Homo sapiens: one gene and its partner. The protein of the gene in region 1 interacts with the protein of each later gene in a pairwise test. Each region holds a gene or a part of one and is shown on either strand. Other genes may lie near its edges.

Region 1 (3,500 bases):
TGAATAATTAGGTTGTTTTAGAAGGGCAATAAAAGCTACAGCTAAGTTCCTGCGATCTATAATTTATAAAATAATTACATATTATTTTGAATAACTTCACAGAATCAGTGGCAAGCAGAGACTTCTTCAAAAACATTTGGAATACGGAAGTAGAGATTGATGGGCTTTGCTTTAGTCTCTGAAATAATCATATTTTTCTGAAATGGATGGTTAAATTTATCATATTGTTCTAGACACTTGGAGTGTAATAATGAACAAGAGAGAAAATTGCCTGCCCTTGTGGAGCTTACATTCTAATGTCACACACACTTTGTGCATTTTAGATTGTTAGGGGAGGAGATTTTTTAATGAAACTTTAAAACCTAGCTGCTTTCTTGTCTTAGGAACTACAGTTTGAAAGAGCCTACAGAAGTTTGAGAAGGAGGAAGGTGTTTACCAGTTGGCAGTGATAGGAAAGAAAGATCTTAGTTTATTTCTTATTTGTACCTTTTGTTATTGTCATGAAACTTTCTCCATATATTTCAGTTGGTAATTTTAACAGATAGGGATTTTTTTCATGATTTTAATAATGTCTTTGAAATTAATAAAACGTTGCTTTATATTAAAAAAATCTTGTGTCTTGAAAGTTACTATAAAATTCCTACATAGTATTATCCCGTTAGCAAAGTATGGTAAAACAAAAGCTAGAATATCTGTTAATTTTTGGTTGGGATTTGTTTTTAGGAACATATCTGAAAAATCAAGTACCTAAATCTTTTTCAGTTCTGGGTTTCTTTTTCGTTTTTTGAGATGGGAATCTCCTTTTATTGCCCAGGCTGTACTTTAACTCCTGGGCTCAAGTGATCCGCCCTCCTGCCTCAGCCTCCTAGTAGCTGGGACTAAGGTGCATGCCACCATGCCTAGTTTCAGTTGTGATTTTATCAAGAGAAGGTGAAAATTTATTGTAATTAGTTTATAGGCGACATTAAAGAGGAGAGACCTGCAAAAAATGCTTTGTTATTTAAACCATTTTTTCAAAAGCATTTGATTGGCACTTTTCTGCTTTAATAGACTTATTTGTAATGCAAGAGGAACATTACAGAAGATTTTAGCAATACTTTAATCATTTAGTCTGTAGGTGTAAAAATCCTGGGTTTCTAATAGAAGGAAAGTTGGTACCTGGTTAAATGAGTATATGATTTAATGCTGAGATTGTGACTTCAAGTAGTGGGTGTCTCACCTTTCCAAAACCTAGTTCATAGTTCTCAAATAACAGTTTTTCCTTTTTAATTTTTTTTCCCATCTGTCATGGTGAGTCTTACTTTGTTAGCCAAATACAAGTTTAGTTCTTAAGTGGAATAACTTTTTTTAATACAATCCTCCCTCCTCCAGCCCTCCCATCCTGTGCCGTGGAGGGTTTGTCACGCTTATACCTACATTAGATCTCTATTTATGCTAATTTGGAACATAATCAGCCTCTTCCAGGAAGGGTACATATTAATGCACTTTAGAGCAGTTTGTGATTGCCTCTGGCTATTTGTATACGGACTTGCCAGCATCTGAAAACTATAAATAGGAAGATTTAGGAGGAAACAGACTTTATAACTAATGGAATACATTGTTTCAGTTGAATTTTTTTTTTTTTTTTTTGATGGAGTCTTGCTCTGTCGCCAGGCTGGAGTGTAGTGGCACAATCTTGGCCCGCTGCAGCCTCCCCTCCCAGATTCAAGCAATTCTCCTGCCTCAGTCTCCTGAGTAGCTGGGACTACAGGCGCGCACAGCCACGTCCTACTAATTTTTTTGTTATTTTTAGTAGAGACAGGGTTTCACCATGTTGGCCACGATGGTCTTGATCTCCTGACCTCGTGATCTGCCTGCCTTGGCCTCCCAAAGAGCTAGGATTACAGGTGTGAGCCACCGTGCCCAGCCTCAGTTGAATTTTTTTTAAAGAGCAAAATGGAAGAATGGCTAATTGAATGTTAAAAAGTAAGACCATTTCCTGTTTTCTGGTAAGGATGGTTGATCGATGTGTGTTTGCATGTGTGTGTGAGTATATATTTATAAATGAGCAGTTTTTGAATAAAGACATATCAATACTGGATAAATAATTCCAGTCCTGCCTGTGGTCCTTGACATGGAGTGTATTCAGGGTTCCCTGGTGATTTTGTTTAAGCCACTTTGTTACCAAAACTTTCCTATGGATAGCATAGAAACACAAGCTAATTAAATTTCTATAAATTTTATATTTTTGGGATGAAGTGTTATTTTGGAAGTATTTTTTTAAGCATGATTACCAGCCAACCTGTGAAATGAATGAAATCTGAAGTGCAGAGTTCATGGAACCTTATATCCACCTAAGATAGTTGAGTTTCAAGAAGGTATTTTTAACGGCAGAAGATGAAATCTTGACATCTATCAAGTTTTTATAGTAATAAAGTAAGCATGACTAAGTTTATTAATATTCATATTTGTAAGGTAAGTCTAAGCATGTGTACAGTGCATTTTAAGTCAAAATTTGGGGTGTTATTGGCTAGACACAGTCATTTCTTTGCCAGAGATACTAGGCTGTGTGAAGGCTAACCATCTGTCAAGTGATAGAGACAAAGAAAGGTTTTAATATACTAGTCTAAAATTTCCACAAACTTGTTTTGAATGGTATTGTCATTTTCTTTTGGCCTTCATACTCTGTGTTGAATATGCACTGGGTCAGTCACCCTACTTTGTTTTATGAACAAACTATTCAAGGTCCAGATGAGGTTATTGTCACAGCTGATGTGATCTAGAGGCAAGATAAAATATGTTTTGATTTTGCTTTCATATAATCAAAAACTCACAGTGGGCCACCCACTAGTAGTTACACAAATGGTTTCAAGTGTACTTGTTTTCACCCACCCATTCTGAATTTTGGGTGTCTTAATTATTTTGCTTTATGTATTCAAGCCTTGTATTTCAAACCCATTCCTGAGCTGTTTGGGGGAAGAAAAAGTAGCAACAGGAATCCAGATTGCCTGTTTTAGGTACAATATGGTGTGATGTGAAATTGAAACAGCAGATTGGTGAGAAACTTTAGTTTCAAACAAATATAAACTAGTTTGTTTAGTGAAGTCATACACAAAACAGTAGTCTCTATTGACAGGGCAATGTTTTTTTCAGTGATTCCCATATCATGAGGTCACTTTTGTTCTTTGGGCCAACAGTCTGTTTTCAAGGTGTCATATAAGAAAAGCACTAAATACTGCTGATTGTAATGATATACTTACATATGGCAGCACAAGAAATTATTTATAGCAGTGCTAATTATATCAATAAAAATAGCAATATTAATACTGTGTCAAAATCCATTCTTGACAGTATGAGGTAAACAGAACTATAGTCAAACAAAGCAGCCAGCCTGTCTTTACTGTCAGCTCACAGATATGCACTTTAAGAAAAATATACACACAGTTTAGAGAGTTGAGTGTACCAATTTAATCTCTTTTCAATTACTTTTGGCTTTTAAAAAGATGTTCTAATTCAACATA
Region 2 (3,500 bases), on another chromosome or scaffold:
GGGGACAGTGAAGAGGAGGAGGATGATGAGCGGAGGGGCCGCGGCTGCACCCTGCAGTACCAGCACGCCATGGTGCGGGTCCTGACGCAGTTTGTGGCTGAGGCGGCCGGCCCTGGGGGACACCTGGCCCACCTGCTGGGCTCAGACTGGCAAGTGGACATCACGGAGCTGATAAATGACTTCATGCAGGTGGAGGAGCCCAGGATCGCCAAGCTGCAAGGCGGACAGATCCTGATGGGGCAGGAGCTTGGGATGACCACCATTCAGGTAAAAAAAAAAAAAAAAATCCCCAAATCAAGATCTCTCTGTCTTCCCACCTCTGCTCTACCTAGAGGAGAAACCAGCTGTTTGTCATTGCTGGGAATGGTATCTATTTTTAGGATGGGTAAATTCAAAGAAATTGTGGAGTAAGCAATACAAGCGATTTTGGCTGGGTGTGGTGGTTCACGCTTATAATCCCAGCACTTTGGGAGGCCGAGGCGGGCAGGTCATGAGCTCAGTAGTTTGCGATTAGCCTGGGTAACATGGCGAAACCCCATCTCTACCAAAAATACAAAAAATTACCCGAGTGTGGTGGTGCATGCCTGTGGTCCCAGCTACTCGGGAGGCTGAGGTGCAAGGATCGCTCGGGCCTGGGAAGCAGAGGTTGCAGCGATCTGAGATCGTGCCACTACACTCCAACCTGGATGATGGAGCTAGACCCCATCTCAGACAAAACCACAATGCAAGCCATGTAATGATGTGATGAGAATCTCAAAATTCCTCACATATTACTTATAGGGGAGAAACTCTGGGCTGGCTCCCATGGTGGCTCACGCTTGAAACACATGATTTTGCCCAAGCCATGGTAGGCGTTACCATCTTGGTAAACAAGCTTTTGAGGTGAGCTTACCTGATCTGAATCACAGGCACGGCCAGCAACTTCCTGCTGAGCCACTTTCCGCCACTGAGCATGGTCACCTAAACCTTCCCACGGCTTCAGGATATTGTGGCCGCCCCTACCGAGTCACAGCCGCGGGCCTGATGAGAACCTGAACAACTCAGAAATGTGCTAAAGGACGAAGTGAAGTGATTGTGCCTCCATATGTCTCGTGGGCCCCTTCTGCTGGGGAGCGGGTGACGGAGAGGACCAGTGGCAACACTTGGGTTTTGAAACACTTTAACAAAACAGTGTTCTGGGAGGCTTGTAAGGGTTTGGTCATTTACCTCCCAGCTGAGAACAAAGCAAGAGATTGTTTTCTTTCTGTGTACATGTAAGGGGTGCAAGTGCAGCTTTGTTACCTGGACATATTGCGTGTCTGCCTTGTTAGTGTAGCCATCACCCAAATAGTGTACATTGTAGCCAAAGGAAGAGTGTATTACTCAGCAGCTGCCCCATCTGCAGGCAATGCGATTGTCTTATCAGGCAATCTGTGAGGTTTCTAAAACAGCTGTGCATGAGGAATCATTATAACTGAGACTAGATTGGATCGTGGAAGATTTAAAACATATCCATTCTGGAAAATTGGCTGGTATATCTAACACTTCATTTTATCCAAGGAGGAAAATAAATGGGTTTGGGCCGTAGACCAGGAGTCGCATGCTCTAATGATCTCTAAAGGCTGAGAAGCTACCATCAGTGAGGAGAGTAGGCTGGGTGTGTGCTGAAAGACAGACAGCAGCTGATTTTCCTCTGAGTGTTAGAGAGACAACAGGGAGTGGTGGTGCCTGTGGAAAAGGGGCAAGCTCTTACTCAGAGCCAAAAGCTGCCAAGAAGAAACGCAAGTCTACTGCAGCCATATGTTGCAATTTTCCAGAAAAGCTGGAAGTCTGTTTTTATATGCAATCTTCTGGCTCTCTAAATGATGGTCATTAATTCTACCTTAAAATATGATTTATGTCAGACAAAACATATCTGTCTCATAGATGAGAGCTTGCAACCTCCACAATTGACTAAGAAGTTGAAAGACCTGAATCCCTACCATAAATCTATAGGCTAAACTGATACTGATGCCCAGAAACTCACAGCGAGATGAGAATTTGGTATTAACATCTTCCCTTAAGTGATAATTTAAGTGCAAAGGGGAAAAGCCATACCGTTCTGAAACCAGGTGTCAGGGAAGAGGAAGTGGGCCAGCTTCCCACACATTAAACATGAACATTATTTTGGTGAGGCCTCTACTCCTGCGAGCCTTGGTTCTTTTCTCTTTTTTCTCACTGTGTCCTCCTGAGTCATAAATTCACTTGTCCACTTTCTTCTGGGGACACACCTCTCATGCTCGCCACCATTTAAATTGTCCCAATCGGACCAGAAAGTGAAGGTGGCATTCGGGTAGAAGTATGGAGCTTTGATTCCTGGTCTCAAAGGGTCCTGGGAAAACTGCTGTCTTGACCTACATCATAAATATCACCAAAAACTTGAAAAGAGAAAGAGGTCGAGAAAGCAGGAGAATGGAGGATGAAGCCCATCTCTTCTAGAAGGAAGGTTGTTATACGGGGCTGTGAGGAGTCTAAGACAGCTGTTTATCATTTGGGCGAAGGGTGAGAGGAGGAAGAAGTGATTCCACAGACGTTCCTCAAAAGCAGGATTTCCTGTTCAGGGTCTAAATTGCACATAAGCCTCATTTTCCAGGTCATTCCAGGTGTCCAGAGGAGAAATGAGGCTTTGGGTTGTGGGCATCAGGCGTAGACATTCAGAACCTACGTTTATCAGAATATGCCCAACGATATTCCTCATCAACAGGCATCATGCGCTGCGTTTCCCAAAGTGTACAGTGTGGCCTCCAGTGACACGCGTGATTGAGATGGACCAGCAGGATCCGCCTTCTAGTTGCACATTGGTTTTTATGTGCAAGAGCGAAAGCTATCAATATGTAACCAGTACACCCAACCCGTCATTCACTGGTGATAGGAAGGCTTTTGAAAAAAACAAATCATTTAAGTAAAATAAATAATTTTAAACAAAATACACACTGTGCTGTAGAAGAATCATAAAGCTAATAGTCGAATGAAAACGTCAGTTCCTCCTGTCCAGGATGGAGCATGGTGGGAAACGGAGCTGATGTGTGGGGTGTGGGGAGAGGGCCAAGCCCTACCTGCCCACTCCTTGACACCACCTTGCTTTATGCAAAAAATGCATTACATTTTCTCAAGCAATACATATGATTCAGAAGGTGGTGTGAGTGGGAAAGGCCTGTTCTCATTCATTCTGGCTCACATGTTGCCCTGCCGCTGCCTGCACACTGGCACTTCCTCCTGTGACTGGAGGCATTGCCTGGACCACAGAAAGCCTTTCCTTGTCATGTCGCTTCTGCCCTCCAGATCCTGTCTCCTCTGTCAGACACCATCCTCGCTGAAAAGACCATCACTGTGCTGGACGAGAAGGTGACCATCACAGACCTCGGGGTGCAGCTGGTGACAGGGCTGTCACTCTCCTTGCAGCTCAGCCCAGGAAGCAACAGGGCCATCTTTGCCACTGCAGTGGCTCAGGAACTTCTGCAGAGGCCAAAACAGGTATGGAG

Evidence for each region. The genes of interacting proteins can lie anywhere in the genome.
Region 2: the proteins of ZBTB20 (region 1) and TMEM132D interact in a two-hybrid assay, tested with the Homo sapiens proteins (one large-scale study listed by BioGRID).

What each region holds. Positions count from the first base shown.
Region 1 is NC_000003.12:115,140,789-115,144,288, reverse strand, and holds part of ZBTB20 (zinc finger and BTB domain-containing protein 20), read left to right. Parts: intron 1-3,500. UniProt on the Homo sapiens protein: May be a transcription factor that may be involved in hematopoiesis, oncogenesis, and immune responses. Plays a role in postnatal myogenesis, may be involved in the regulation of satellite cells self-renewal.
Region 2 is NC_000012.12:129,078,526-129,082,025, reverse strand, and holds part of TMEM132D (transmembrane protein 132D precursor), read left to right. Parts: coding exon 1-267; intron 268-3,300; coding exon 3,301-3,492; intron 3,493-3,500. UniProt on the Homo sapiens protein: Regulate neuronals morphology via inhibition of the WAVE regulatory complex (WCR), a complex that controls F-actin cytoskeletal dynamics.